2 separate regions of the Homo sapiens genome follow, and region 2 is linked to region 1. Evidence: fine-mapped expression QTL. A gene starts in region 1. The other region holds a variant in brackets. All regions are shown on one strand. Distances are from middle to middle. Region 1 holds the start of NAAA (N-acylethanolamine acid amidase). Region 2 holds the start of PPEF2 (protein phosphatase with EF-hand domain 2).

Region 1 (15,273 bases):
TACTCTGTATAGACTTGCATTGCAACTCCATTTCAACTAGAATGTTTACTCAGAATATTCTGTTCTTTAAACTATTTTAGATAACACATTTTAAAACCATATATAGATAATATAGTTCTACCAAGTGACAGTCTTTCATCAATTGCTTATGTTCTTTTGAAATGTACTTTATGAGATTTTTTAAAAGATCTTAAATATGAATAAAAATATAGGACAATGACTTGTAGCCTTTTCTCTTACAAGGTCAAGGCTCTAGAAAGAACCTTTCCAATATTAGCAGAGTCTTTGGTCTGCACGTGTTTACAAATGCAAATAAAAGCAGAGAACACAGCTAATTTTGTACTCCTTAAATAGCATAAGCTTATATTTGTATAGACCATTTCTTAGGTAGTAAACTTATTTCCTTCTGTAGATTCTGCTTTCATGTTTTGTCAGTCCAATCCCAGTGTGAAGATGGTTGAATAAAACTATCATTTATCCACATGATAGAGTATTATGCAGCCATTATTATAATAAGCATTTCCCATTGTAAACATTTCCAGTGTTTACAATGTCTTTTGTTCTTTTCAAAACAGGCTGTTCCTGTTCTTTTCTGCCAAGGCAGGCAGATCACCTTGTTCTTTTCCAGCCCAGGCTGGAGAGCACTGGAACAATCTCAGCTCACTGCAACCTCTGCCTCCTGGATTCAAGCAATTCTCCTGCCTCAGCCTCCTGAGTAGCTGGGACTACAGGTGCCCGCCACCACACCCAGCTGATTTTTGTATTTTTAGTAGAGACAGGGCTTCACCATGTTGGCCAAGCTGGTCTCGAACTCCTGACCTCAAGTGATCCACCCTTCTCAGCCTCCCAAAGTGCTGGGATTATAGGCGTGAGCCACTGTACCTGGCCACTATTATTTTCAAAAGCAGAGTATAAAATGATAAAGAAGCCTGGGCAACATGGTGAGACCTTGTAAAAATTAGCCAGGTGTGATGGTGCATGCTTGCCATACCAGCTACTCAGGAGGCTGAAGCAGGAGGATCGTTTGAGTGCCGGAGGTCAAGGCTGCAGTGAGTAAAGTTCAAGCCTCTGTAGTTTAGCCTGGGTGACAGAGCGAGACTCTGTCTCTAAATAAATAAAATGATCAAGTGGTTTTAAGACAATTTCTTTACACATTTAATCTCTGAAATTGAGATGTTTAAAAATGTTTGCAGCCAGACAACAGTCTTGATGTAGTTGTCATTGCCTGCACATTCACAAACCTGGTCTGCTATTTTCACTTGACATCTGCTAACATGAAGCAGGGACCAACATCAAAATTTGCAGAATGGGAATTAGTAGCCTTTATGAAAATTCCAGAAAAAAACTGGAACTTTTAAAAAATTCCAAACTCTTTATCGACATGTAAAGAAGAGTACAGGTACCATCAAGTGTACTTAAACTCAATGAATTTTCACAAGCTGAATACATTCCTGTAACCAGCACTCAGATTAAGAAACATTACAAACACCTTGAAACCTCCTTCGTGAGTGGAGAACTTTTAAGAAATGAGGCATCACTAAGACTTTTATTTTTTCTTTCAGAGACTGGGTCTTGCTCTGTCACCTAGGCCAGAGTGCAGTGGTGTAATCAGAACCCACTGCAGCCTTGAACTCCTGGGCTCCAGAGATCCTCCACAGGCCCAGGCCAGAATGCCTAGCTATTAATCATTTTTTAAAATTTATTTTTAATAGAGACAGGGTCTCGCGATGTTGCCCAGGTTGGTCTCAAATTTCTGACCTCAAGTGATCCTCCCACCTTGGCCTCCCAAAGTGCAGGGATTACAGGTGGGAGCCACTATGTCTGGCCAGCACTAAGATTCTTTTTTTTTCTTTTTTTTTTTTTTTTGAGACGGAGTCTCACTCTGTCACCCAGGCTGGAATGCAGTGACACGATCTCGGGTCACTGGGATTACAGGCGCACACCACCATGCCCGGCTAATTTTTTGTATTTTTAGTAGAGACGGTTTCACCATGTTGGCCAGGCTAGTCTCAAACTCCTGACCACCTCTAGTGATCCACCGTCCTCGGCCTCCCAAAGTGCTGGGATTACAGGTGTGAGCCACCACATCCAGCCAAGATTCTTAATGGCACAGAAAAGTAGTGTGGTGTGGAAAAACATGGGTATCTGTAGTCAAATGGTGATTCAGGAGAATCTAATTCAGAATGCAAAGAAGCTTAAGCAATAGCTTAATTTATTTCACTTTTTAAAAACATAGAAGAGTAGATATGTGATTTTCAAATAATTTTGACAAAAAACTTAAGAAAACTCTTTCAATACATACACATTTTTAAATTCTAGTAAGACAGCGTATCATAGTTTAAATGGCAGTGAATTTTTCTTCAAGATACATAAAATAATGGTGCTTCGTATAACTACAATTTCATAAATAAAATATGCATATGAAAGTAGTTGCTAGGTTTGGGTGATGGGAATATAACTGATTGGATTTTTTCCTTTACATTTAAAAAAATTTTTTTACAGCTCATGGCCATGAACTCCTTTACATTTTAAATATTTTGTAATGTTGCTTATCAAACATTTCTACTAAAAATTTTTTTAATCTAAAATACTTCTAGTTCCATCTTCGTAAGATCCAATTTTGTTGTACTTGCTATTCCTAATATCTATGTTACCATCAGAGGTGTTTTTAAAAGAAATTTGGCCAAGGAGGAAAAGAAAATTAAGAACAAAATGGAAACCCTAATTCTGGGAAATGTTACAAAAGGGGAAGTTCAAAAGAATTACATGGAAACTAAGAATAAATGATGTTCAACAGAACATCTTGTTTTAAGGATACTTAAATCTTTTTAAATCTTTTAAACATTTTATCATTTTGTGATTTTTAAAAAACATACATATAGAAAATAATGAAACTTGTTCATCTCCAAGTTTTATTCAGTGTTAATATTTTGCTTTTTTAAAAACTTAAAAACTAGAACGTTAAGAGTATAATTATGTCTCAGCCATTTCCCCGCCTCTTCTCAGGGATAACCCTTATCTAGAAGTTGATGAACATTAAGAGTATAACTATGTCCCACTCAGCCATTTCCCACCCCCTTCTCAGGGATAATCCTTATCCAGAGGTTGATGCCTATCATTCCTGCAGTTTTTTCTTTCCCTTGTATATTTGTATGTATATATAAATTTTTACATAAGCAGTATCCTATAAATTCTTTTGCTATGTAACTCAACATTAGATTCTTGATAGATGGAGATTCATTTTAATTGTTGTATAGTTTCCATTGTTTATTCATACATCCACAATTTATCATTCTACCAAAAAGCAGTTAGAAAAAGTTTTCCACTTTTTTTGCTATTTAAAAACCTTGCAGGCTGGGCACAGTGGCTCACGCCTATATCCCAACACTTTGGGAGGCTGAGGCAGGCAGATCACCTGAGGTCAAGAGTTTGAGATCAGCCTGGCCAACATGGTGAGACCCTGCTCTACTAAGAAATACAAAAATTAACTAGGCATGGTGGCACATCCCAGATACTTGGGAGGCTGAGGCAGGAGAATCACTTGAAGGCAGGAGGGGGAGGTTGCAGTGAGCTGAGATCACACCACTGCACTCCAGCCTGGGTGACAGAGTGAGACTCCCTCTCAAAAAAAGTAACTAACTAATTAATTTAATTAAAACCTTGCTGCAGTAAGCATCTTTGAACATGTCTTCTAGGGTTCATGGTCTTAGAGTTTTTTCTTTAAACAAAGTTTAGATAGAAAACTGAAAATGGGCTGGGCACAGTGGCTCACGCCTGTAATCCCAGCACTTTGGGAGGCCAAGGCAGGCGGATCACTTGAGATCAGGAGTTTGAGACCAGCCTGGCCAACATGGTGAAACCCTGTCTCTACTAAAAATGCAAAAAAATTAGCCAGGTGTGGTGGTGCGCATCTGTAATCCCAGCTACTCAGGAGGCTGAGGCAGGAGAATTGCTTGAACTTGGGAGGCAGAGGTTGAGTGAGCTGAGATCACGCTACGGCACTCCAGCCTGGGCGACAGAGCAAGATTTTGTCTCAAAAAAAGAAAAAAGAAATCCAGAAAACTGAAAATGAAATCACTGGGTTTGTAGGGTCTGCAATTCTTCAACTTTACTAGGCAATACTGAATTAACACTATATTCTCGTCAGTAACTCATGTAAGTTTGTATCTTACTACATCCATGTCAACAAGATGTTATTAGACTTTGAAACTTAAGACAACCCTTTGTTTATGAAATGGTATCATGGTTTAATTTGCATTTCATTGATTACTAGAGAGGTTGAAATAACTTCACATTTTTATGTTCATTTGGGTTTTCCTCTTTTTATAGCCTTTTGTTTTCCTTTTTTTTTTTTAGTAATAAAAACATAGGAGATCTTTACGCATTCTAGATACTAATTCTTTATCAATTACCTATGTTGCAGATATCTCCACAGATAAACAATGCGATATCTATGATAAACTAAGTTCTCATGTATACTTTGGGCCTAGGATTTTCAAAACCATTTCTGGATCCTTTTTAACAGTCCTTGCTCTAGCTTCTCTCTTTCCTCTCATATTTGACTATAAGCAGCAAGAAGCCAGGTAGCAACTTCAACATTTTGCTTGGAGATCTAGCTAGAGTACCTAGTTCCTTAGGTACATTTTTCTGTGTTCTGCATTCCTCTAGGTGATCATGTTAAACATTCTGGCACTACATAACAAAGGAACCTCTTACTTCCAGTTTCCAATAACATTCTCACTTCTGAAGTGGCTAGTGCTGGCAGTCTCCTTCAAGACCATCAGACTGTTTCTTTCTTAGGATGGTTTGTTTCTCAAGGGATTTCTACTAATCATCAGACTTCTACTAATCATCAGTCTGTTAGGAACTTTAGGCTCTCACTAACATTCTGCTCAAAATTATTACAATTTCTCCCTACTACCAGTTCCAAAGCAATACATTTTTAGGCATGTGTTATGGTAGCACTACAGTTACGTTCCCAAACAAATCTATATTAATGATCTGTTTGTCACATACCAAATTACCTCAAAACTTAGTGGCATAAAGTGATAAACATTATTTCACAGTTTCTTTTTTTTGCGGGGGGGGACAGTCTCACTGTCACCCAGGCTGGAGTACAGTGGTGCGATCTGGGCTCACTGCAACCTCCATCTCCTGGGTTCAAGCAATTCTCCTGCCTCAGCCTCCCGAGTAGCTAGGATTACAGGCACCCGCCACCACGCCCAGCTAATTTTTATATTTTTAGTAGAGACGGAGTTTCACCATGTTGGTCAGGCTGGTCTCAAACTCCTGACCTCCAGTGATCTGCCCGCCTCGGCCTCCCAAAGTGCTGGGATTACAGATGTGAGACACCATGCCCGGCCTGCTTCACAGTTTCTATGGGTTAGGAATTTGGGGGTGGCTTAGCTGAGGCAGGAAGGTCCACTTCCACCATGGCTCACTCAGATGACTTGACAAGAAGCCTCAGTTCCTCTCTGGCTCTTGGTAGAAGCTCAGTTCCTCAACAAAGGGACTTTCTTTTTTCTTTTTTTTCAATTTTATTTACTTCTTTTTTGGAGACAGGGTCTCACTTTGTCATTTAGGCTGGAGTACAGTGGCGTGATCATAGTTCACTGCAGCCTCAAATTCCTGGGCTCAAGTAATCCTCCTACCTCAGCCTACCAAGTAGCTGGGACTAAAGATACATGCCCCCATGCCCGGCTAATTTATTTTTATTTGTTTGTAGAGATGGGGTCTCACTGTTGCCCAGGCTGGTCTCCAATTCCTGGGCTCAAGCAGTCCTCCTGCCTGACTCTCCAAGTGCTGAGATTTGTGTCCAGCCACAAAGGGACATTTTCATAGGGCTTCCTCAGGACATGACAATGGGCTTCCTATAGTGAGCAATTCAAGAGAGCAAGGAGAAACCCACAGTGTCTTTTGTGACCTAGTCTTGGAAGTCAACCACCAGCAATTCTGATTCTATTCATTAAACCAAGTGACCTCAGATGATCAGCCAGCCAACGTGCTGGGATGACAGGCGTGAACCACCATGTCTGGCAAGAAATTTTGTAATTCCTTTAAGTGTTATCCTTAAAAACAAGTGATTGATTATAAAAGTTGTATTTCTTCATCCTAAAATTGGTAAAAAATAAAAAAAAAATGTGTTTAGTTTCTACTATGCATTTAGTTTTTTTTTTTTTTTTTTTTTTTTTTTTTTTTTTTTTTTTTTTTTTTGAGACAAAGTTTTGCTCTTGTCACTCAGGCTAGAGTGCATTGGCACAATCTCGGCTCACTGCAACCTCTGCCTCCCAGGTTCAAGAGGTTCTCCTGTTCAGCCTCCCAAGTAGCTGGGATTACACCACCACGCCCGGCTAATTTTTGTATTTTTAGTAGAGACAGGGTTTCACCATGTTGGCCAGGCTGGTCTCAAACTTCTGACCTCAGGTGATCCACCCGCCTCAGCCCCCCAAACTGCTGGGATTACAAGCCTAAGCCACCATGCCCGGCCCTTTCATTTAGTTTCTACTATTCATGTACACATGTACCCTGTTTTACCCACAGACAACTGTGCTAACCGTTAAGAATGTCCCAGCCTTACTAAGATTTTCCTAAGTTTGTCTCCCAGACATTGGGAACTCAAAGGTGAAGAAACTTAGGTGTGAAGGTGGATTGTGGATTCAGACCTCCTTACTTGGAGGCCAGTGCAGAGACACACCAGCAGAGTAACCTCGGGTACATGGCTTCACCTCTCCAAGCCTCACACTCCTCATCAGTAAAGCGAGGATTAGTGGAACCTACCTGTTGGCTTGTTTTGATGATTAAATGAGATAATGTCCGCGAAAAATATTTAGCAGATAAATGTTCACTAAATTTTGAGCTTTAAAAAAATGTTTTACCAGCCAGGCGCGGTGGCTCACGCCTGTAATCCCAGCACTTTGGGAGGCTGAGGCCGGTGGATCACCTTAGGTCAGGAATTCGAGACTAGTCTGGCCAACATGGTGAAACCCTGTCCCTACCAAAAATACAAAAATTAGCCAGGTATGGTGGTGGACGCCTGTAATCCCAGCTACTTGAGAGGCTGAGGCAGGAGAATCGCTTGAACCCAGGAGGCGGAGTTGGCAGTGAGCGGATATCTCGCCGCCGCACTCCAGCCTGGGCAATAGAGTGAGACTACATCTCAAACAAACAAACAAACAAGCAAACAAAGTTTAACTGAAAAGTCTTTCCTGACACCTTTTCGCTACTGAAAATCTTACAGCCCCTCCCGGCCGCAGCCTACACTCCTTCGGCCCAAGCAGGTGCGCTGGAACCGGCAGTTGGTGAGAAGCCGGCTGCCGGCAGCCCCAACCCTTAGCGGCCCCGCGGTCAGGGACCTCCAGGCCCGATGGAGAGTCGGGGCGGGCTAGTGGATGCGCGGCGGGGACGGGAGGTGTCGCCGCTCCGGCTTGCCGGTGACAGGGGCGGGCGGGTCGTGCGCGGGCCCCACCTCCAGCGATCGCAGCCCAGCCCCAGCTCCTCCTCCTCCACGGCTTACCCGGGCTCCGACAGCGGCTGCAGGTCTCCAAGTTGCGGCCGCTGGAGCCCGAGCCATGCGGACCGCGGACCGGGAGGCGCGCCCGGGGCTTCCGTCCCTGCTGCTGCTGCTGCTGGCCGGGGCCGGGCTGTCAGCCGCCTCGCCCCCAGCAGCGCCGCGCTTCAACGTGAGCCTGGACTCGGTCCCCGAGCTGCGCTGGCTGCCCGTGCTGCGGCACTACGACTTGGACTTGGTGCGCGCCGCGATGGCGCAAGTCATCGGGTGAGCTGGGGCCCTGGACGGGGTCTGCGGGGACACCGGCCCTGCGGGTCGGAGTCAAACGCGCGCTGCTCAGAGTGCTTTAAACGGGGACGCTTTACTCCCCGCCACCCTTGGAGAACTGGTTTTGGCTGCCGCCCTGAGCAGCGTCCGGGTTGGGGAGAATCCAGCGCGGCAGGTTCGGCTTTCAAGTTCGGTGTCACCCGTGGCACGCCAGTCCTTGAGCCATTCCGGGTCAGCGTGGCGCGCGAGTTGTCGCCCGGGCTGCATAGCTACCAAGGAGGGGCAACCCGCGCCTTCCTTGCGGGCCTCGCGGGCCTTCCAAGCTTGCCCCTTTGGGACCAGCCTCACTCGCCCTCCCCATTCGGAGTTTTCTTACCCGCCGCCTTCCCCCCGCCCCCTTCCCCCCACTCCCGGGAGGCTGCAGATTGAGTGACGCCGCGCCTGGGCGGTCCACTGACTGGGGAGCAGTGGCCCTGAGACCTCACGCCCTAAGGATGTAGCCCCGCTCGCAGTGCACACGCAGTCGCACGCCGCCGACCTCTGAGCGGGTCAGACGCCCTTGTGCTTTTTGTTTCTAGGGACAGAGTCCCCAAGTGGGTGCACGTGTTAATCGGAAAAGTGGTCCTGGAGCTGGAGCGCTTCCTGCCCCAGCCCTTCACCGGCGAGATCCGCGGCATGTGTGACTTCATGAACCTCAGCCTGGCGGACTGCCTTCTGGTCAACCTGGCCTACGAGTCCTCCGTGTGAGTGCCCCAAGCCCGCGCGGAGTAACGCGGGGCTTGCGGGGGCCCCCGACACAGACTAGCGGGAGGAGACATATTTTCCGTGTGATAAAAACAGGGCGGTGCCTGCTTGCCTAGAAACCTCCAGCGCTTCCTCTTTGCCTCTCTGGGTAAATCTGAGCTGCACATCGTAGGCTTCGAGAGGGAAAGCAGATTCTCCGATTCAACACTAAACTTTCCCTCTACGTGTAGCCCCGGGTTTTCTCTTCCCCAATCCAGGTAGCGTACTTTTAAAATTCTGCTCAAAGGCCGGGCGCGTTGGCTCACACCTGTAATCCCAGCACTTTGGGAGGCCAAGGTGGGCAGATCACGAGGTTAGGAGTTCGAGATCAGCCTGGCCAACATAGTGAAACCCCGTCTCTACGAAAAACACAAAAAATTAGCCAGGCGTGGTGGTGGGCGCCTGTAATCCCAGCTACTTAGGAGGTTGAGGCAGGAGAATCACTTGAACCCGGGAGGCGGAGGTTGCAGCGAGCCGCGATCGCGCCACTGCACACCAGCCCTGGCGACAGTGCGAGACTCTGTCTCAAAAAAAAAAAAAAAAAAATTCTGCTCAAAACGTACTTTTCCAGGAAGTTTTTGAAACTAAGCCTCCTCTCATCTGGACCCTTTAGTTAACTCAGTGGCCTTCCAGCTCTATACTGGCAGTGGCTCATCTCTGCCCTTATTTGTCGCCCTGCATTTATCCTTTCATGTGTGTCGTGGCTGAAGTGTCTGTGTCCACCAGGGCTGGGGCGACAGGGAACACTGCTCTAATAGGGCCAGCCAGTGTTTGGACCGGGAAGTGGGCATGATAAAATGTGCATCCAGGCTGGGCGCGGTGGCTCACGCCTGTAATCCCAGCACTTTGGGAGGCCGAGGCGGGTGAATCACCTGAGGTCAGGAGTTCAAGACCAGCCTGGCCAACATGGTGAAACCCCGTCTCTACTAATAATACAAAAAAATTACCAGGGCCTGGTGGCGGGCACCTGTGAATCCCAGCTACTTGGGAGGCCGAGGCAGGAGAATCACTTGAACCCAGGAGGCAGAGGTTGCAGTGAGCCAAGATGGCACCATTGCACTCTGCAGCCTGGGCGACAAAGCGAGATTCCATATCAAAGAAAAAAAGTGCACCCAGAAGTGAAAGCAACATGGAGTGTGTGGTTGATCCCAGGCAAAGTGCAGGGGACCACTAAAGGTTTATGGGCTCAGTAATAGGCCCTGGAATAAAGAGAGGTTTTGACTTGGTTTCTTCCTTCAATACTTATTGTTTTGCCAGCAGACTAGCTTCATCTCGTAACCTCTTGTACATACTTAGAGCTTCTTGCTGCCTAAAGATGATGGGGGTAGAAAAGATCTTGGAATAATGAAACTTTACTGGCCCAGGCATTTTCCCAGAACACCTAGGCAGAGTAAGCTAAAAAGCACTGGGACTGCCTTCCTCTTCAGGAAATGCTTTCAGGCACAGAAAAGACACAGGCCTGCTAAATAACATGCTTTTCAGTTGAACTAAGTTATTATAATTTTACCACCTCCCTCTCCTACCTCCAACTTTTTCCTATTTTTAACTTACAGCTTTCTCAATGAAAAATCACGAATCATTTTTACCCTCATCTGTTGGAGTCACCATATTCAAACACATTAAAGCAAAAGTTCTAGTAAAAACATTCTAACTTTTGGATTTGATACTAAGGTATTTATTGAATTGCCTAATAGCACCATTCAATTCACTAGCATTAACAAAGGAAATGCTTTCTTCTCATGTTGGAAGTAAGCCTTCTTGAATTAGAATAATACTAGCTACCCTTTATTGAGCCTACTGGGTGCCAGGCACTTCATGAACACAGTCCCGTGGGGAAGATGGTATCATCTGTTTTGTGATGTGGAAACCAAGCCTCAGTGGGGCCACCTTGCTGGAAGTCAGGTGGCTGGTGAGTGCTAAAAGCATGGGAATCTCCAGTTCGCTGCAGTGCCTTTCAAAGCAGAGCCTGTTTCCTCATTTGTCTCCCATGCTTGTGCACTGCTGCATCACACTACAACATTTGGGCCTGAGATGGAAGTATTGTTATCTTGCCAATTTTGAAAAATCGCCTCTGAGAGAGATCCCACAAACTTTGCTTTAGTACTTCCCATGTCTTACCAGTCCCCTCCCTGACCTGAACTCTTTGAAGTTAAGCTCAGAAACCTTGGAGGGTGGCCGGCCACAGTGGCTCACGCCTGCATTGCCAGCATTTTGGGAGGCTGAGGTGGATGGATCTCTTGAGCCCAGGAGTTCGAGACCAGCCTGGGCAACATGGTAAAACCTTGTCTCTACAAAAAATACCACAAAATTAGCCGGATGTGGAGGCTTGCGCCTGTGGTCCCAGATACTCAGGAGGCTGAAGTGGGAGGATCGCTTCAGCCCGGGAAGTCACGGCTGCAGTGAGCCGACATTGCACCACTGCACTCCAGCCTGGGTGACAGAGACTCAAAATAAATAAATAAATAAATAAATAACAGAAACCTTGGAGGGAATTAAAACTGACCAAGTTTCCGTCTTTATTTTATTTTATTTATTTATGTTTGAGACGGAGTCTCACTCTGTTACTCAGGCTGGAGTGTAGTGGCACGATCTTGGCTCATCGCAACCTCCGCCTCCCTGGTTCAAGCGATTTTCCTGCCTCAGCCCCCCAGATAGCTGGGACAACAGGTGTGCGCCACCATGCCCGGCTAATTTTTGTATTTTTAGTAGAGATGAGGTTTCACTATGTTGGCCAGGCTGGTCTCAAACTCCTGACCTCATGATTCACCCACCTTGGCCTCCCAAAGTGCTGGGATTACAGGCATGAGCCACTGTGCCCTTGCCCAGCCCAAGTTTCCATCTTAAAACAAACAAACAAAAAGTAACACTTTTTTCCCCAATTATAAAAGTAACATGTAATCGTTGTAGAAAATCAGTAAATGTAGAAAAGTAAAAAAACAAAGCTAACCACCATCCTGTTATTAAAAAATGACCAGAAAAACCCTTCAGGATATTTTCTCTCAGTTTTGTTCATGTGGATATACATATTTTTCCCTCTGGTATTGGACATACTGTATATAAATATTTTTTCATGTACAGTTAAATATTCTCAGAGAATATGGATAGATACTTAACAAGCCTCCTCCTCTTTTTCTCACAATACTTCTGTTCATAGAGATTCCCCCTTTTTTAAAATTATGATCTCTGTGCAAGGAGCTGGAGAGAGAAAGGAAAAGTGCCAAGTCCCTTAAGAGCCAGCCATTTTCCCAAGGGGACAAAATGAAACATTTGTGAAACAATGGTTTAGTGTTACTTTATTTGCTCTGAGGAATTCATATATGGAGAGGTGAGCTTGAGCTGGCTTTGAATCATGTGTTAAATAGAATACATGCTGCCATGCAGAGGAAAAAGCAGAGTTCAGAGGTGTCCTGAGCCCAGGATGGGTTAGTTTCACTTCAGATTTAGACTGAGGATGAAATTCTCACTTACTATGCTTATGATGCCCTCCATGTGTGCTAAGGGTAAAGATCCTAGAAACACTGAATGAACACAGATGAGTTGTATCCAGTTGTGTTTTTCATCTTGAATTGTTAATCTATATTCTTATACAAGCATTATAGCACATATATCAGTTATAAGGAAGAAAAACTTTTACTTTGAGGATTTGTTTTACAAATGAAAAACTCCTTTTCCTTTTTTTTCTTATTTGTCTTATTCATTCATGTTGGACTTTTCCCTTTTCTCAGGTTCTGCACCAGTATTGTGGCTCAAGACTCCAGAGGCCACATTTACCATGGTCGGAATTTGGATTATCCTTTTGGGAATGTCTTACGCAAGCTGACAGTGGATGTGCAATTCTTAAAGAATGGGCAGGTATAATCCGTACCATATAAGATAAAAAATCAGAAAGATTTGCAAACTCAAGTTAGCAGTCATTTGGATGGCCTGCTAACTTAAGTGTGTTATCAGTGTAAGACACAAAAAAATCACACCCCTGGAAAAACAAAGCCAGAAGAGAGGTTTGCATCAATTATGCTTATAGGAAGGACGGTCATTTATTATTTATTATTCAGTGTCTACTTAAAGAGGTCACCCAGTTTTCCATAGGGAAATCTCTTTTAGAGAGTGATCAATCATCCACTTATGCAGAGTCAGCTCTTTCCTCTGCTTTCCCATGCCCAGGCTGCTTCTGGAATATGGAGGGGCTGGGTAGTGCAATAACTAGAAACACCCAACTTTGGGATCTGACAGTCCCAGGTTTAAATCTTGATTCTATCAATTACTGTACTTCCTTTGTGAACCTGAGAAATTACTCATTCCCTAATTTTGCAGACTACAGCTCATGGAGGCTCATAACTACTTTACTGCGATAGTTATAAATGTTAAATGAAGTAGTCTATGTAAAGTTGTAGCCAAATAATAAATGGTCCTTCATTCTGCAAGTGTGATTGACCCACACCACTTTCTTGTGTATGATCTTTAAAAAATTATACTTAGATCTTTTGTTTATAGCATGGTCCCTTTAAAACTATAATCTAGTGTGTGCTGTTGTCAACTGTGTAAACTTTTAGAGAGACAGAATTAATCAATGTTCATTGAGTACGCAAAGCATGTTTTGCTGTAAAACAGAATACAGAGTGCAAAAGCCAGATTTTGGCTGTAAGGACAAGGACTATATTCCCTTTGTTCTTTGCATTTAGGGGTTGATTCACAAATACTAAAAACTCATTTACTAACTACTCAGTCATCTGCTTTTACAAACACTTTTTTTCATAAAAAATTCAAACAGTACAGAAATATTTAAAGTAAAAGTTTCTCCTTTCCAGTCCCATTTCTTTACTTTGCCACTATTAACAATTTGATTTCTAGCTGAATTACTTTAAAAATGATTTTAAGTGGTAACGATAATATAAATGCATAATAAATTCTCAAAGGAAATCTGCTAAATATTAAGTTATTACTGAATGAAGGATAATATTATTTATTATTTATTCATGTTTTTTCTCCATTGTTCTATAATGAGCTAATACTCTTAATAAAGAGACAAAGGAATAAATGCAATGAAAATAAATTATTTCAGCTGCTCTGAAACTCACTCTAATAGTTGTTGCTTCATTTGTTTTTGTTTTTCCTGGAGTTCCCATGAAATAATCTATAGAGAAATAGTCTGTAGAGGTAGTTTTACTCTCAGTACTCAGGTGACTGTTACTGAATATAGACAGTTTACACTTGGGTATTGCTTTTCTATGGAGGACTCATGGCCAAGAAATTGTTTTATGAAATTAAGAACAGGTTATCCACAAAATAATTCATCTCTCATTCTTGTCTAGTGTTTGTAATCTTAAAAGTATTTTTGGCTGGGCGCGGTGGCTCACGCCTGTAATCCCAACACTTTGGGAGGCCGAGGCAGGCGAATCACGAGGTCAGGAGTTCAAGACCAGCCTGGCCAATGTGGTGAAACCCCGTCTCTACTAAAACTACAAAAAAAAAAAAAAAAAATTAGCTGGGCGTGTGGGTGGGTGTCTGTAATCCCAGCTACTTGGGAGGCTGAGGCAGGGGAATCGCTTGAACCTGGGAGGCGGAGGTTGCAGTGAGCTGAGATCGCACCACTGCACTCTAGCCCAGTGACAGAGTGAGACTCCATCTCAACAACAACAACAAAAGTATTATCATACACAGGACCTCATTCGATCCCCCCAGCAGCCCTGTGAAGCAGGCATAAGTCAACATTTTAATCTTTACTTTCTAGATGAGGGGGCCCAGCTTCACAGAGACTGACTTGCCCCGAATCACAAGGCCTCTAGAGACATGGCAGAGGTAGGGCCAGAACCCAGGCGTTAGGCCTACTGATAGTTTTTGTTTACAGCCTTAATTAGGCTGTAAATTATTATTATTATTATTATTATTATTATTATTATTATTATTATTACTACTACTATTGTTTTTATTTTTGAGACAGAGTCTCGCTCTATCACCCAGGCTGGAGTGCAGTGGCGCGATCTCGGCTCACTGCAACCTCTGCCTCCCATGTTCAAGCAATTCTCCTGCCTCAGCCTCCCAAGTAGCTGGGACTATAGGAGGGTGCCACCACACCCGGCTAATTTTTGTATTTTTAGCAGAGATGGGGTTTCACTATGTTGGCTGGTCTTGAACTCCTGAGCTCAGATAATCCACCCGCCTCGGCCTCCCAAAGTGCTGGGATTACAGGTTTGAGCCACCGCACCAGGCACCAGGCTGTAACTTAAAATTCCCTGCTAAGGGTTTGTTTATGTTAACTGACTAGGCAGAAACAACTGGGAAGTACAAACAGAAGTAAAGACAGATTTTCAGAGCTGCAAGATAAAATATCTTACAAATTATATCTCAAAATTATTTATAATTATGTATCGTAATTGAAAACTACGATGTGACTTTTGATCTCATAACTTCAATTTTCTCAGCCCTCCAAGAGTGACCCTGACGATCACGGTGTCACGCAAATGAGGTGGCCATATAATTACTTTTTATTTTCCATATAATTACATTTGAGTAGTAAGGAAGACTTATTTCTGCTTTACCACCATGCGTGGAGATGAGACATTCATGGAGGTCCTCAGTAAGTCTGAGGGCTGAGGTCATTTATAAAGCTAAGGACACTGCATTCTCCCTTGTAATTCAGCCACCTTAAATTATTTTTACAAGCAGATAAGGTAAAAATAAATAATTAAATGAAAAACATTACTGACCTAATTTTTCTA
Region 2 (15,273 bases), 41 kb after region 1:
AGGCTGGAGTGCAGTGGCGCGATCTCGGTTCACTGCAAGCTCTGCCTCCCGGGTTCACGCCATTCTTCTGCCTCAGCCTCCCGAGTAGCTGGGACTACAGGCGCCCACCACCACACCCGGCTAATTTTTTTTATTTTTGGTAGAGACAGGGTTCCACCATCTTAGCCAGGATGGTCTCTATCTCCAGACCTCGTGATCCGCCCACCTCTGCCTCCCAAAGTGCTGGGATTACAGGCATGAGCCACTGCACCCCGCCTAGCTCAAAATAATTCTTATTTCAAAGAGGTGTATTTTGGGGTGACATATTTTGGTTTTCTTCACTGCAATATGACAACCTGGAGGACATTATCTTAAATGAAATAAGCCAATCACAGTGCTTACTGGAATAATTCCATTTATGTGAGGTATCTAAAATAGTCAAACTCATAGAAGCAAGAAGTAGAGAGTGGTTGTCAAAGGCTAAGGGGCTGGGGAAATAGGAAGTTGCCATTCAACTGGTGTAAAGTTTCATTTATACAAGGTGAATAACTTCTAGAGATCTGTACGTCGTGCCTATTGTACACTTAAAAATCTGTTAAGAGGCCAGGCGTGGTGGTTTATCTTATAATCACAGCACTTTAGGAGGCGGAGGTGGGGGTGAAACAGGAGAGTTCCCTGGCTCCCCTTGCAGGACACTCAACAGGGGTGTTGATCTCTGTTCAGCTGCCACAAGCTCAAACCCCTTATAGGAGCGGGAGGATACAGACAGGCAGGTGCAGGAACCAGAGTGAGCGCTTTTGGGCTCTGGCCCCAGGGCAGCTTCTAGGGGTGGTGCTTTGACTCCTGAAGCCCCAGTAGGCATGCTACAGTGCTCTTTTAACTCTGCCATCCACAGATGGCTTAAGTGTTAACCAGCTCAGTGTCCCCTTGGTACCCGGGCCCTTGTCCAGCACCCAGAAAGAATCAGGTTACACACAGACTTGAAGAGTGGTGAATATGGGGGTTTTATTGAGTGGTGGAGGTGGCTCTCAGCAGGATGGATGGGGAGCTGGAACGGGGACGGAGTGGAAAGATGATCTTCCCTTGGAGTTCAGCAGTCCTGTGGCAGAACTCCTCTCCAACTGTCCCCAGCTGGACTCCTCTAGATATTCAGATGCTCCTTCTCTGCCATGCCGTTCTTCAGTTCTTTGGCTCTTCTGCTCATCTCCTCATGGACCCAGGGATTCGGGGTTTATATGGGTACAGGATGTGGGGTGTGGCGGGCCAAGATGCAACATTTGGGCACGAAAACAGGAATGCCTGTTCCCATTTGGGGCCTCGGGTTTCCAGGCTTGAGGGTGGGGCTTTTGGCAGGTAAATAAATCAAACAAAATAAATAACTTTCCAGTATTTCCCCGTCTCCTGTTCATATCAGGAAGATTGCCTGGGTCTATGAGTTTGAGACCAGCTTGGGCAACATAGTGAGACCTCTGTCTCTACAAAAATAAAAATATTAGCTGGGAGTGGTGATGTGTGCCTGTAGTCCCAAGTACTTAAGAGGCAGAGGTGGGAGGATCACTTGAGCCTGGGAGGTCGAGGCTGCAATGAACTGTGGTCATGCCATTGCATTCTACCCTGGGTGACAGAGTGGGATCCTGTCTCAAAAAAAGAAGAAAATCTGTTAAAAGGGTAGATTTCATGTTGTGTTCTTACCAAAATAAAATAAATTTTAAAAACAAGAGGCAATAAAATTTTTTAATTAAAAAGTTAAAATTTATTTTTTTATTTTGAGACAGCATCTCACTCAGTTGCCCAGGCCAGAGTGCAGTGGTGTGATCTCTGCTCACTGCAATAGCTGGGACTACAGACACACACCACCATCCCCTGCTAATTTTTTGTATTTTTTGTAGAGACAGGCTTTTGCCGTGTTGGCCTGGCTGGTCTTGAATTCCTGACCTCAAGTGATCCACCCACCTCGGCCTTTCACGTGCTGAGATTACAAGCATGAGCCACCACGCCTGGCCTAAAATAAATAAATAAATAAATAAAATTGAAAATTTTATTTAAAAAATTTTGGCTGGGCGCAGCAGCTCACACCTGTAATCCCAGCACTTTGGGAGGCCGAGACAGGTGGATTGCATGAGCTCAAGACCAGCCTAGACAACATAGCAAAACCCCATCTCTACAAAAAATACAAAAATTAGGTGGGTATGGTGGCACATGCCTGTGGTCCCAGCTACTTGGGAGGCTGAGGCAAGAGGATTGCCTGAGTCCGGGAAGGTCAAGGCAGCAGTGAGCTGTGATTGTGCCACTGCAAATACCAGCCTGGGCAAGTAAGACCCGTTCTCAAAAAATATATATATATTTTTAAATAAAAATGGCTTGGCCTACAGAGCTTTCATGGCAGATGGAGAGAGCTGGTTTTCAAAATATTCTGTTTTTAAAAAGTACACAAGTGACTGGGCATCACCATGCTCACGCCTGTAATACCAGCACTTTGGGAGGCTGAGGCTGGCGGGTCACCTGAGGTCAGGAGTTCAAGACCAGCCTGACCAACATGGAGAAACCCTGTGTCCACTAAAAATAAAAAATTAGCCAGGTATGGTGGCACATGCCTGTAATCCCAGCTACTCAGGAAGCTGAGGCAGGAGAATCGCTTGAACCCAGGAAGCAGAGGTTGCAGTAAGCCGAGATTGCGCCATTGCACTCCAGCCTGGGCAACAAGAGCGAAACTCTGTCTCAAAAAAAAAAAAATAATAATAATAAGAACACAAGTAACAGATTTCTAATATAAAAATAAATCAAACAGTACATAATGTGATCCTCTGCCTCTCTTCCCCACTTGTGGATGGCACTCTCCCCATGAGTACCCCTAGTGATAACTGCCATCTGTACTCATTAAGACATTTAAAAATGCATAAACGTTTTAAAATGTAGATTCTATTTTTATTCAGGTATGATAAGGCCAACAGATCAGGGGACAATTGCCATTTAAAAGATAGCTTATTACTCCTCGTTCCCAAGAGGAGAGGTCACACCTGCACAGCCACGGGAGAGAACACTGAGGTTGGTCACAGGCAGAGGACAGGAGAACTGTGGTTTTCGAGGGAAGGAATGGGTGAGGCAGGGTAAGGCGGCTAAGCAGGTGGAGGACTAGCTAGTTGGAATAGTGTCAGCTGACTCCTGACTGTAGACTGCACTGAGTTGTCTGATATATGATGTCAGGGTGATTAGGGTAGAGAGATAACGGCCTTGAGTATGAAAGTCCAAAAAAGGAGGGATTTGGTGGTAGGGCTCTAGATTGGTTAGTTTGCATCTCAGGGATCAGCTAATCCCAGGAGGTGTAGTCTCTCCCTGGTCAACAAGGCCCCAAAATGTCAAAGCATCAATATGGAAACTAGAAAATATGGGTAATACCACATAAAAAAATATCTTAGGTTATTTTCCAACTTTTCCTAATCACAAATTATACAGTAATAAAAATCCTTATATAGATTTTTGCATGGGTGTATAATTCTGTAAGATACTTAGAAGTATAATTTCTAGATTAAAGGATTTACATATTTTAAGTATGTAATTTAATAAATTACAATTAAAATTTAATTTAATTCCCCCAAAATGAAACATTTTAACGATCCCAGCAATAGTATATGGAGAGGGTCCTTTTTCTCATACTCTCAGTAATACAGGATTTTATCAGTCTTTTAGTCAACTTGGAGAAAGAATGTTAGCAGTCAGCCACTAACAAAAACTAAGCTAATGTGAAAATGTTAATATCAGACAAAAGAGAATCAAATGCAAAAAGAATTTTAAAAGGCAGAGTGATATTTAATTTTTATGTCACCCTCTACCAAGACAGTTAAATGACAATACGGCTTCATGTGTAATTACACAGTTGCCGATGGCAATTTTACATGGTTTAAATTTAATATCTAATTATATAGCTTCAAAACGTGTAATGCAAAGACTCAAATACAAGGAGAATTTGCTAAATCTGTACTTGTCATAGAAATCTTCAAAATACCTCTTTCAAAGATGGTCAGATCAGGAAGAATAAACAAAGATAAAGAGGATCTGAATTAATATAATTAACAAATTTAGGCCGGGTGTGGAGGCTCACACCTGTAATCCCAGCACTTTGGGAGGCTGAGGTGGGCAGATCACTTGAGGCCAGGAGTTGGAGACCAGCCTGGCCAACATGGAGAAACCCTGTCTCTACTAAAAATAGAAAGACTAGCTGGCCATGGCAGCGGGGGTGCCTGTAATCCCAGCTACTCGGGATGCTGAGGCATGAGAATTGCCTGAACCCAGGAGGCAGAGGTTACAGTGAGCTGAGATTGTGCCACTGCACTCCAGTCTGGGCGACAGAGCAAGACTGTCTCAAAATAATAATAATAATAATAATAATAATGAACAAACTTGACCTACTAGATATAGACAAACAGAATATCACTTTCTTTGAGAATTTCCATGGTGCATTTAGTACCTACCAGAACACACACACGAGCATCTTAGATTAACTGAAAAAGTAAGTTGTCCAAGAATAGTGATTAACCACAGATTAGGTTATATCCTAAGGAAAGTGTCCATAGAAAGGGCAGGATATTTCAAGCAGGCTTTGCAAACAGAAAAGCCAGCCCCAACAAAGAATGCCTCCTATGTGTCTTCTGCTGAGGACTCCCCTTGGACTCCAGAGCCCCTAGGCCCCTGTGTCTTGTCAGCACTCTGCTATTTCAGGGCTAAGGAGCTCAGGCTTCTCAGATGTGGCCTGGGAAACACAGTCTTCTAATCCAGGAGAGTAAGAAGATTTAGGACTGACGTGGGTGCTGTTAGAGAAACCCATCTCCTTGGGTATATGGGAGATACCCCGACTATGCAGTCGCCCCCTTCAAATCTTCCTTGGGGGCCTGATCTGACTGACGTCAGGGGGTGCCTACTCCTTCGAGGCAAGAAGCCTGAACTTTCCTTCCTGTCACTGTGAATACTTGGCCAGGGCTGTGAATGTCACCATTGCTTTTCAGGAAGAAGACATGGCAGACTAGGGCTGCACCTTCTTTATGGGCTCTGTAGGTCTGAAAGAAATCAGATCAGCCTGGGATCCCTCAGCCAACTCTGAAGACAGGATGGGGATCACGCCTGCATGTTAAAGAGATTTCTGCCTTGTTGTGTCTCATGGTAAATAAAAAACCCAGCAAAGAAGGTAAGAACTTTCTGTCTAGCCTAAAGTAGAAATGGGTGAGAACAGGAGGGCGACACTTATGTTTTTACCTAGGAAATAAATACAGAGTTGTTTTGAGACAAAGGTCAAAGACAGCTCCTCTGTTATCTATCAACTCATCCAGATGGGGTCTTTGCTATCTGTGTGATGAGATCTTCAAGTGCTGGGTGACCATTCTGCCCTGGATTTCTTGGGCTCACTTAGTGGACAGATAAACACTTTTTTTTTCCACCTAAGAGACAGAGTCTCACTATGTTGCCCAGACTGGAGTGCAGTGGCTGTTCATAAGTGCAATCATAGCACACTACAGCCTCGAACTCCTGGGCTCAAGCAGTCTTCTCACTTCAGCCTCCTGAGTAGCTGGAACCACAGGCATGCTGCACTACCACCCCTAGCTAATTTTTGTTTTTCATGATAATGTGAGGCATTGATGATGCTAAGTCAAATTCTAGAAGGAGAAGGGGTCTCACCCACGTTGGGTGGATGTACTCATCACCTGGAGAGATGGCTCAGCTTGGGAAATCATCAGGGGGAGAAGACAGCTGGTGATTACCAAAGGTGCTGATTCAACAATCTCGGGCTCCCTCAAGCTC[G/A]TTTTCTGTGGCTGACCTTATGAAGTTTTCACATTTTTAGTTTTTCCCTTGAGAATTATTCTACTTCCCCTTTCTGTTCATTTCCTTTTTTTTTTTTTGAGGTGGAGTCTCGCTCTGTCACCCAGGCTGGAGTGTAGTGGCGAAATCTTGGCTCACTACAACTTCCACCTCCCAGGTTCAAGCGATTCTCCTGCCTCAGCCTCCCAAATAGTGTAGCTGGTATTATAGGCATGTGCCACCATGCCCAGCTAATTTTTGTATTTTTAGTAGAGATAGGATTTCACCATCTTGGCTAGGCTGGTCTCGAACTCCTGAGCTCAGGGGATCCAACCGCCTCAGCCTCCCAAAGTGCTGGGATTACAGGCATGAGCCACGGCACCCAGCCATTTTTCTTATTGATTTCTAGAATGTTCTCTGCTTGTCCGTAGATGACTCCATCTTCTTCTCTTAAGCAGCCATATGGGATACCTATTTAGTCAGAGCCACTTTCTAATTTTTCTTATGTGTAAAAATTTTAGAAAAATATCATTTATTGATTTTTAATTACAAAAGCTGTAATAGAAGTATATAAGTTAAAAATGGAAATCTCTCACCCAACCTCTTTCTCCAGAGGTAATTACTGTTAATAGCTTGGTGTATAGTCTTTCATTTTTATATACTTACTGACTTTTTTTATACAGATGATATCACACTAGGCGTGCTCTTCTGGAATTTGCTTTTCTTCATGTAACAATATATCTTGGGGCCGTTTTCATATGATTACATATCGACTTGCCTTGTTCTTTGTCATGGTGGAATACATTCCATTGTTTTTAAAGCATCATGATGTATTTTGTTGATTCTTTACTGATAATTATTTAAGGTGCTTTTTATCTGAGGAGGAGAAGAACTTTAAGAGATTTTTGAGGATGTCATTTAAGAAAATTCCTTATCTATGTTTTTCATGACGATGACAAACATTTGCAAAGTACTCCTCATATATAACCTCACTTCACACTCCTAACAACCCTGTAATGACGTTACCATTATCCATAAATAACAGAGAAACAGATGAGACCAGGGAGCCCCAAGGCAGGGATCACATGTGCCTTTGCTGTTATAATGGTAGCTAGGTACCCCTTTTCCCCTTCCACATGACATAGGAAAACATATCCTTTTTGTCCTTGGTGACAAAAGGTCACCAAGAGTTAGTTACAACTACCTAATGGGAGACTTCATTTCTTTCATCTCTTGTGGTTGTTCTAAATAGTTTATTGGCCCATGATAGATATCAACTTCCTTACTCTAGGCAATGCTATATTTCTATCTCCAATAAATTCTTTGTAGGTCATCTTATTCTGCCACCATTTTTGAATTTATAAATTCATGAGAAAAAAAGTTGCCTAAGGGCAAAAGAGGATTTATTTAATAAAAATCTTTGACCCAGCAATAATCAGTATCCATCCTGCTGATTCATGCAGCATTGAAATAGTATGCCTTTTACTGCCTCCAAGAACATATTTTTGGTTGTTGATATTTTAAAATAAATATGACATCAGATTCAGTCCATCAACATATATTGAGGTTTTATTGTATAGAAAGCACTTTAAATATATCATTTATGATCCTTGAAGATACATAGATGAGAAAACTGAGTCTCTGAGAGCTTAAGTGCCCAAAATTGAGTGAGAAGGTGAACAAAAATTCTCACCCACATCAAACACTCTTAAATACACAACTTGGCTATGCAGGCAAGTTACCAATGTATCAAAGCAACTTGTGAGTCATTGACAAGCAGAATCATTGCTGAAGTCCCTTCTAGTTCTAAAACTGTGCAAATATTTAGGAGCAGTTTTGTTGGTTTGGACATGATGGCTTCTCACTTTACCCCAAACTCAGATTCTGGTATCATGACATCTCATAGAACTAGGAACCATTTTGCACACAAAAAGAGATCACAGTCTTTTTTCCTCTGGTTGTTTATTCAAAATAAACTAGCCAACATAAGCAAGGTAAGACTTTAATTTTGATTTTCAGAGAAAAAGACAACAACTCTTTGATAATCCCCAGTATCACAACCTTCAAAAATAGCGGAGGAGAGTGGGGTAGAAATGAGGTAGAGAAAAGAGTAAAAGAAGTGGGATTCGCTCTTGATGTTAAGTCAGTACATCTCACATTACCTCCTGAAGAAGAACTAGAGAAAGTGTCATCTTTGTTGTATAAAAAGAAATATGGCATAATGATCCAGCAATCCCACTACACTTTGGGTGTATATCCAAAGGAAGCAAAATCAGTATTTTGAAGAGACAATTGCATACTCATGTTTATTGTAACATTATTCACAATAGCCAAGACATAGAATCAACCTGTATGCCCATCAGTGGATGAATGGATGAAGAAAATGTAGTATATATGTACAGTGGAATACTATTCAGCCATAAAAAGGATGAAATCCTGTTCTGTGTGACAATATGGGTGAACCTGGAGGACATTATGTTAAGTGAAATAAGCCAGGCACAGAAAGACAAATACTGCGTGATCTCACTCATATGTGGGAGCTAAAAAAGTTGAGATCATGGAAGTTGAGCATAGAGTAATGATTACTAGAGACTGGGGAAAATAGAAGGAAGCAGGAGATGAGGAAAGTTGATTAACAGGTACAATGTTACAGTTAGATAGAAGGAATAAGTTCTGGCACTCCATTGTACAGTACCATGACTATATCTAACAATAATGCATTGTATATTTCAAATAGCTAGAAGAGAGAATTTTGAATGTCCTCATAACAAAGAAATAATAAATGTTTAAGGTGATGGATATGCCAATTACTATGCTTTGATCACACAATGTATACATGTATCAGAATATCACATTGTATCCCATAAATATGTATAATTATTATGTGTCAGCAAAAAATAAATAAGGCATAAAGTTTATTCAGTTAATATTTATGGAATCCCTACTACATGTCAGGCACTGTGCTAAATCCTGGGGATAAAATGATGAATTTGCTTACAGTCTTTCTCTGAAGGAACTCACAGTCTAATAGTAGAGAGATACAAGATTAAAGACTGTAATATGGTATTGCAGTGATGGAAATGTGAACAGGATATTCAGGAGCTCAGAGGAGGAGCAGGTCAAGCTGGCTTCTTTAAGGAAGGTGATACTTAAAGTGAGCCTTTAGCAATGAATAAAGTTAGCCAGCTTAAGAGAAGTGGGATAGAAAGAACATTCCAGGTAAGAGCAGAAACACAGAGGTCATGGTAGTTAAAGCACAGAGTTTGAAGAAAGGAGAGAAGAGAGACGAATGTTGGGAACAAGCCCCCCAAAATCTGGCCGTAAACTGGCCCCAAAACTGGCCATAAACAAAATCTCTGCAGCACTGTGACATGTTCATCATGGCCATAACGCCCATGCTGGAAGGTGGTGGGCTTTCCAGAATGAGGGCAGGGAACATCTGGCCCGCCCAGGGCAGAAAACCGCTTAAAGGCATTCTTAGGCCACAAACAATAGCATGAGTGATCTGTGCCTTAAGGACATGCTCCTGCTGCAGTTAACTAGCCCAACTTATTCCTTTAATTCGGCCCATCCCTTCGTTTCCCATAAGGGATACTTTTAGTTAATCGAATATATACAGAAACAATGCTAATGACTGGCTTGCTGGTAATAAATACGTGGGTAAATCTCTGTTCAGGGCTCTCAGCTCTGAAGGCTGTGAGACACCTGATTTCCCACTTCGCACCTCTATATTTCTGTGTGTGTGTCTTTAATTCCTCTAGCACCGCTGGGTTAGGGTCTCCCTGACTGAGCTGGTCTCGGCAGACGAGGCTTTTGGGGAAGATTTGTTGTTGTTGTTGTTGTTTTAGGCAGAGTCTTGCTCTGTCGCCCAGGCTGGAGTGCAGTGGTTACACATCTTGGCTCACTGCAACCTCTGCCTCCCAGGTTCAAGCCATTCTCCTGCCTCAGCCTCCCAAGTAGCTGGGATTACAAGTGTGCACCACCACACCCAGCTAATTCTTTTGTATTTTTAGGAGAGATGAGGTTTCACCATGTTGGCCAGGCTGGTCTCAAGTGATCAGCCCACCTTGGCCTCCCAAAGTGCTGGGATTACAGACATGAGCCACTGCACATGGCCTGGAAGATGGGTTCTGTTTGGAGTCTGAGACACCCCAATCAAAGTGTTTAGCAGGGAGCTGAATATGTGGGGCTGAAGTTTAGGGATCATCTGGGATGGAGACAGAGATCTAAGAGGTAGGAAGTGATAGCTGAAAATGTGAGAGTTAATTAAACCAGCCAGGGAGCATATACCACGTGAGATCAACAGATATTTGAGACTAGAATGCAAATAAAAATCAACATATAAGGGACAGACAGAGGAAAATGAGCTCAAGAAGCAGAGACAGTAAGTAGTCAGGAAGATGGGAGTAAACATAAGAGTTTAGTATCACAGAAGCTCAAGGTGTAGAATTGAAATAAAGGTGTGGCCTGGCCAGGCGCAGTGGCTCACGCCTGTAATCCCAGCACTTTGGGAGGCCGAGGCAAGCGGATCACAAGGTCAGGAGATAGAGACCATCCTGGCTAACACAGCGAAACCCCGTCTCTACTAAAAATGCAAAAACAAAATTAACCGGGAGGCTGAGGGGGTGAGAATGGCGTGAACCCAGGAGGCGGAGCTCGCAGGGAGCCAAGATTGTGCCACTGCACTACTCCAGCCTGGGTGACAGAGAAAGACTCTGTCTCAAAAAAGAAAGAAAGAAAGAAAGAAAGGTGTGGCCTATGGAGACAGATGGCCTTGCTGTTCTGGCAAGGTAAGGACTGAAAAGATGAAGACATTAGAGGCATCAGGAAAGGCTTTGATCAATAGTGAGGATGAAAAAGGTGATTTTGAGAGGAAGTAAAGAGAAAACTGTAGTCTACCCTTGAGATAAATCTGGATGAGAAGACAAGAGAGGTTGGGTGACAGTTAGAGGAATATAGGAGGTCAAGGGAGGAGGAGGTGGCGGATGAATTGCTTTGAGAATGCAAAATAAGAGATTTCAGTATGTTTCTAGACTGAAAGGAAAAGGCAGTGGAAAGGTTGAAAACGGGAGACCTAGGGAATGACAAATGGAGGGAACTCTCAGGGGAGGAACATCTTGTGCACTTAGACTGGAGAGGTGGAGAGGATACTCTCACATGATTCATAGACAATTTGGCCCACCCGATTTAATACTCTGCCTGCATCTCCTATTACAGATTCTCTCTTCATTTTGTCAGCAAACAGCTCACTGTCCTCTGGATCTGCTGCGTCCTGCAGGAGCATTGCGCTTAAACTATGGGAAGCGGCACCTCCACCCAACATCATTTTGCTTTCCAGAATGCAGAGAGAGGTACGTGTTTCCCACTTTCCAAACCAGCTGTGGGTACCACAAAGCCCATATTGCATGGAGAGGGTTGGGGGTTCTGAGGGTAGAAGCAGAAAAACCCTTAAATTTCTCCTCAGGCCAGCTCTTAGAGGTCAGCTTCTCCTCCTTGTGACATGCCCACCAAAATGTCCAGTTGAAGTATATTTGACAGAATTAACATTCGCTCAGGAAGTTAGTGTTGTCCATTGGGGTTGATCCCAAACTACCCAGGTACAAATGAATGAAATAAGGTTGGGCAAAGAGGGGATGAAACACATTCCAGGCAGAGGGTAGAGCACGTCCAAAGGTCATGAGGTGGGAAGAAGGAAGCATGAGCTCCCTCTAGTGGCCAATCTAACAATTTTTTTTTTAAAACAATAGGCCAGGAGTTGTGGGTCACACCTGTAATCCCAGCACTTTAGAAGGCTGAGATGAGAGAATCTCACCTGGGCCCAGGAGTTTGAAACCAGCCTGGACGACAGATCAAGGATCCTATCTCTACAAAAAAAAAATTTTTTTTTTTTGAGGCGGAGTCTTGCTCTGTCGCCCAGGCTGGAGTGCAGTGGCACGATCTCTACTCACTGCAAACTCCTCTTCCTGGGTTCAAGCGATTCTCCTGCCTCAGCCTCCCGAGTAGCTGGGATTTCAGGCGCCCGCGACCACGCCTGGCTAATTTTTGTGTTTTTTGTAGACACTGGGTTTCACCATGTTGACCAGGCTTGTCTTGAACTCTCACTTCAGGTGATCCGCCTGCCTCGGCTTCCCAAAGTGCTGGGATTACAGGCGTGAGCCACCGTGCCCAACCTAAAAAATTTTTTTTTGTTTTTGAGACCGAGTTTCCCTCTGTGGCCCAGGCTGGATTGCAATGGCACAATCTCGGCTCACTGCAACCTCCGCCTCCTGGGTTCAAGCGATTCTCCTGCCTCAGCCTCCCAAGTAGCTGGGATTACAGGCGGGTGCCACCATGCCCGGCTAATTTTTTGAATTTTTAGTAGAGACGGGGCTTCACCATGTTGACCAGGCTGGTCTCGAACTCCTGACCTCAGGTGATCTGCCCGCCTCGGCCTCCCAAAGTGCTGGGATTACAGAAGTGAGCCACCATGCCCAGCAAAAAAAAAAAAAAAAAAATTAATTAGCTGGGTGTGGTGGCGAGCACCTCTGTAGTCCTAGACACTCAGGAGCCTGAGGTGGGAGGATTGCTTGAGCACAGGAGTTCAAGCCTACAGTGAGCTATGATCATGCCACTGCCCTCCAGCCTGGGTGACCGAGTGAAATCATTTCTAATATGGTAGGGATATCAACTGTGATATAAATTGCAAATATTTTTTCCCAGTTTGTCACTTGTTTGGACCAATTTTGGAATTAGCTTCAGCTCAGGGTTTCCTTATCTTGTGAATAACACGAATTCAACCCACACACGCCACAGGCTGAGACTTTCTATCTCACTGAGTTCTAGGTCAGCTCAGCTCCTGCTACCACAGGGGCCGGTAGGCAGAGATTTATTAGATCACGCAAGGTACAGAAACTTCCCCAGCTCCTGCCTTTTCACAGACAGTCCAGTTACCACTCCCTGCCATGCACAGAACCCAGGAACTCACTCTCATCCCCATACAGGTGTTAAACCCCAGCTCCTGAGACATGTGTCTGGTTGAGATTCCCCTGGGGCCTGCCTGACTTCAGTGCCTCTAACTGCCTTTGGCTATGGGTTCCGTCTTCATTTCTGGCACCCGGAGATCTCCCTTCAATGCTTTTGATTTCAACTATTGGTTAAAAAGAAATTTAGCTTATTTTATGCAGCTTTTCTTAATGTGTTGGAGTGTGAGGGAGTCCTACATCTGCTTAAGCATGCCATTTCTTATTGGAAGTCGATATTAGGCTCTCTATTTTCCTTAAAGGGATGTCATAATTCATTAAGTTTTTATTGCACCTTTTGGCAAGCTTATACTTCCATTACAGAAAGGTACTTCTTCCTAGAGGCATCATTTTTTTCCTTTAAATCAGTGTTGTATATAGAGACATAAATATTCTTGACAAAGATAATAAAAATAAGAGGGTAACCATCAAAAAAATTCTCTGTTCTATCTTTCTTAAATAATTTACCTATTCTCCCATACCCTACTGTGCATTGCCTTGGTTCACAATTTTCTCACAGTGTTGTTATATGTAGAGTTTTTACAGCCCAGGTGTATTTGTAACTTGTACCCTAATAATTTAGTTTACACATGGCCCAAGTAAGAGGGGCCTATACATTTTTGCATTGTGCTATTAAAAATACATGATGGGATAAAGGATATTAAAAGATCCTGCACTTCCCAGAGCCCATCTCAATTGAAAGCAAGCCAGCTCCCCACCACACCCTACCAGATAGTCAACCGGGAGGAAGAAAAAAAGAGGGAGAATGAAAGGTGTTGCCCACTTCTGCTGCCTGAGTAGCCAAAGCAAGACTGAGGATGTAATACGTATGTCTCATCATTGGCAGCACTGGCCATAGAATGCTCAGGGCAAGGTGTTAGCAGACAACATTGATGTCCATGATCTTCTTCAGTGGTCCTTAAACTTTAGCACAAGTATGAATTATGTATGGAGCTTGTTAAACCTTCAGATTCCTTCCTGGATTCCAGCGGTAGAGATTCTGATGTTACAGGTCCAGGGTGAGGTGTAGCAACCTGCATGTTTACCAGGAATCTCTAAAGAATCTGTAGCACCAGCCCTGGACCTTTCATTCACTATTCTCTTTTGTGTGTGAGTGTGTGTGTGTGTGTGTGTGTCAGAGTCTCTAGCCCAGGCTAAAGTGCAGTGGTACGATCTCGGCTCACTGCAACCTCTGCCTCCCAGGTTCAAATGATTCTCCTACCTCAGGCTCCCAAGTAGCTGGGATTACAGATGCCTGCCACCATGCCCAGCTAATTTTTGTATTTTTAGTAGAGATGAGGTTTCACCATATTGGCCAGGCTGGTCTTGAACTCCTCACCTCAGGTGATCCACCAGCCTCAGCCTCCCAAAGTGTTAGGATTATAGGTGTGAGCCACCACGCCCAGCCTCATTCACTATTCTGAACATGGTTTTACAGAAGTCAGTCAGTGGGGTTCAACCTCATCGCTTACTATTTAGTGAGTGCCTTTGAGAAATACTAGTAGTATGAATTTTTTTCATAGGAAATCAAATTTATCTTTGTTTAAGTTCCTCCCAGCTTCTCTTTTCCCATGTCACCATCATCTTTCCTCTTAGGGAAATCAGCAAGAATTCTATTATCTGTCTAATGCAAACGAAACATATTAAATCAATCTGTCTACTCTTTATGAGGTTGACCTGAGTCAGCCTGCAGGATTTCTAATCCAGCCTGCAGGATTTCTAATCCAGCTTTATCCACAAATAGTCCATTCATCACCAGCAGTGTATCTAAGCCTTGGAGCTTAAAAAGAATCTAGTTATGTGGACAGCTGTTCCCTTCTCTGGCAACAATACTTGACCACACAGGTCCTAAACCTTATATAAAGAATGAAACTCCACACCCTAACCTGCCCTACCTGGTCACCTAGCACAGGTCCTGGCAAAAATGAGAGGCCCAGTGGCCATGTGGGGGACTGCATGGTCAGTGCTGTCTATCTTATGACGGGGGTGCTTAAAGCCTGTAGGGATATCATGGAACTGGGGATGGCAAGCATGGGAGCTGGGACACAGTTGCTACCCCCTGACATCGTATGATGCATTCATTTGAGTATTCGTTTATTGTTTGCTTTTCCTAGTCTTCATCTGGCCCCGCCCCTTTTCCAGATGAGGACATTGAGGCCCCAGATGACTTGTCTGAAACCACAGAGCTTGTCAGGGCAGTTCTAGGTCTAGATCCCAGGTGTCCTGACATCCAGTCTATTGTCACAATATCAAAATGTCCACCCCACCCCCGCATTATAACCTGTCAGGGATGCTGCATCCTTGCAATCTCATGAGTTTACATCTCCTTCTCGGAATCCTGGCAGTCCAACCTTTTCATCCCTATACAGAAATGTTTTCATCAATACATGGGAATTCTAATCAACCTACAGTGATATGAGTATAACCATCAGGCAGGAATGAAGGGGAGGGGCAGGAAATGGGGAAAAGCACTATTGCCAGCAGAAAGGGAAATACTTCCTATGGGCGT

What was found.
Region 2: its variant is fine-mapped to the expression of NAAA in lymphoblastoid cells (TwinsUK, PIP 0.95).

Annotation. Positions count from the first base shown.
Region 1 is chr4:75,933,245-75,948,517 of GRCh38, reverse strand. It overlaps NAAA (N-acylethanolamine acid amidase), which reads left to right and starts at 7,505. Exons shown (of 11, transcript NM_014435.4): 1 at 7,505-7,774; 2 at 8,353-8,517; 3 at 12,283-12,409. The coding sequence starts at 7,569. RefSeq lists silencers at 7,283-7,752, 8,153-8,222.
Region 2 is chr4:75,892,115-75,907,387 of GRCh38, reverse strand. PPEF2 (protein phosphatase with EF-hand domain 2) reads left to right here and starts at 4,936. Exons shown (of 17, transcript NM_006239.3): 1 at 4,936-5,158; 2 at 11,005-11,117. The coding sequence starts at 11,063. The variant G/A (reference allele first, on the strand shown) is at 5,770.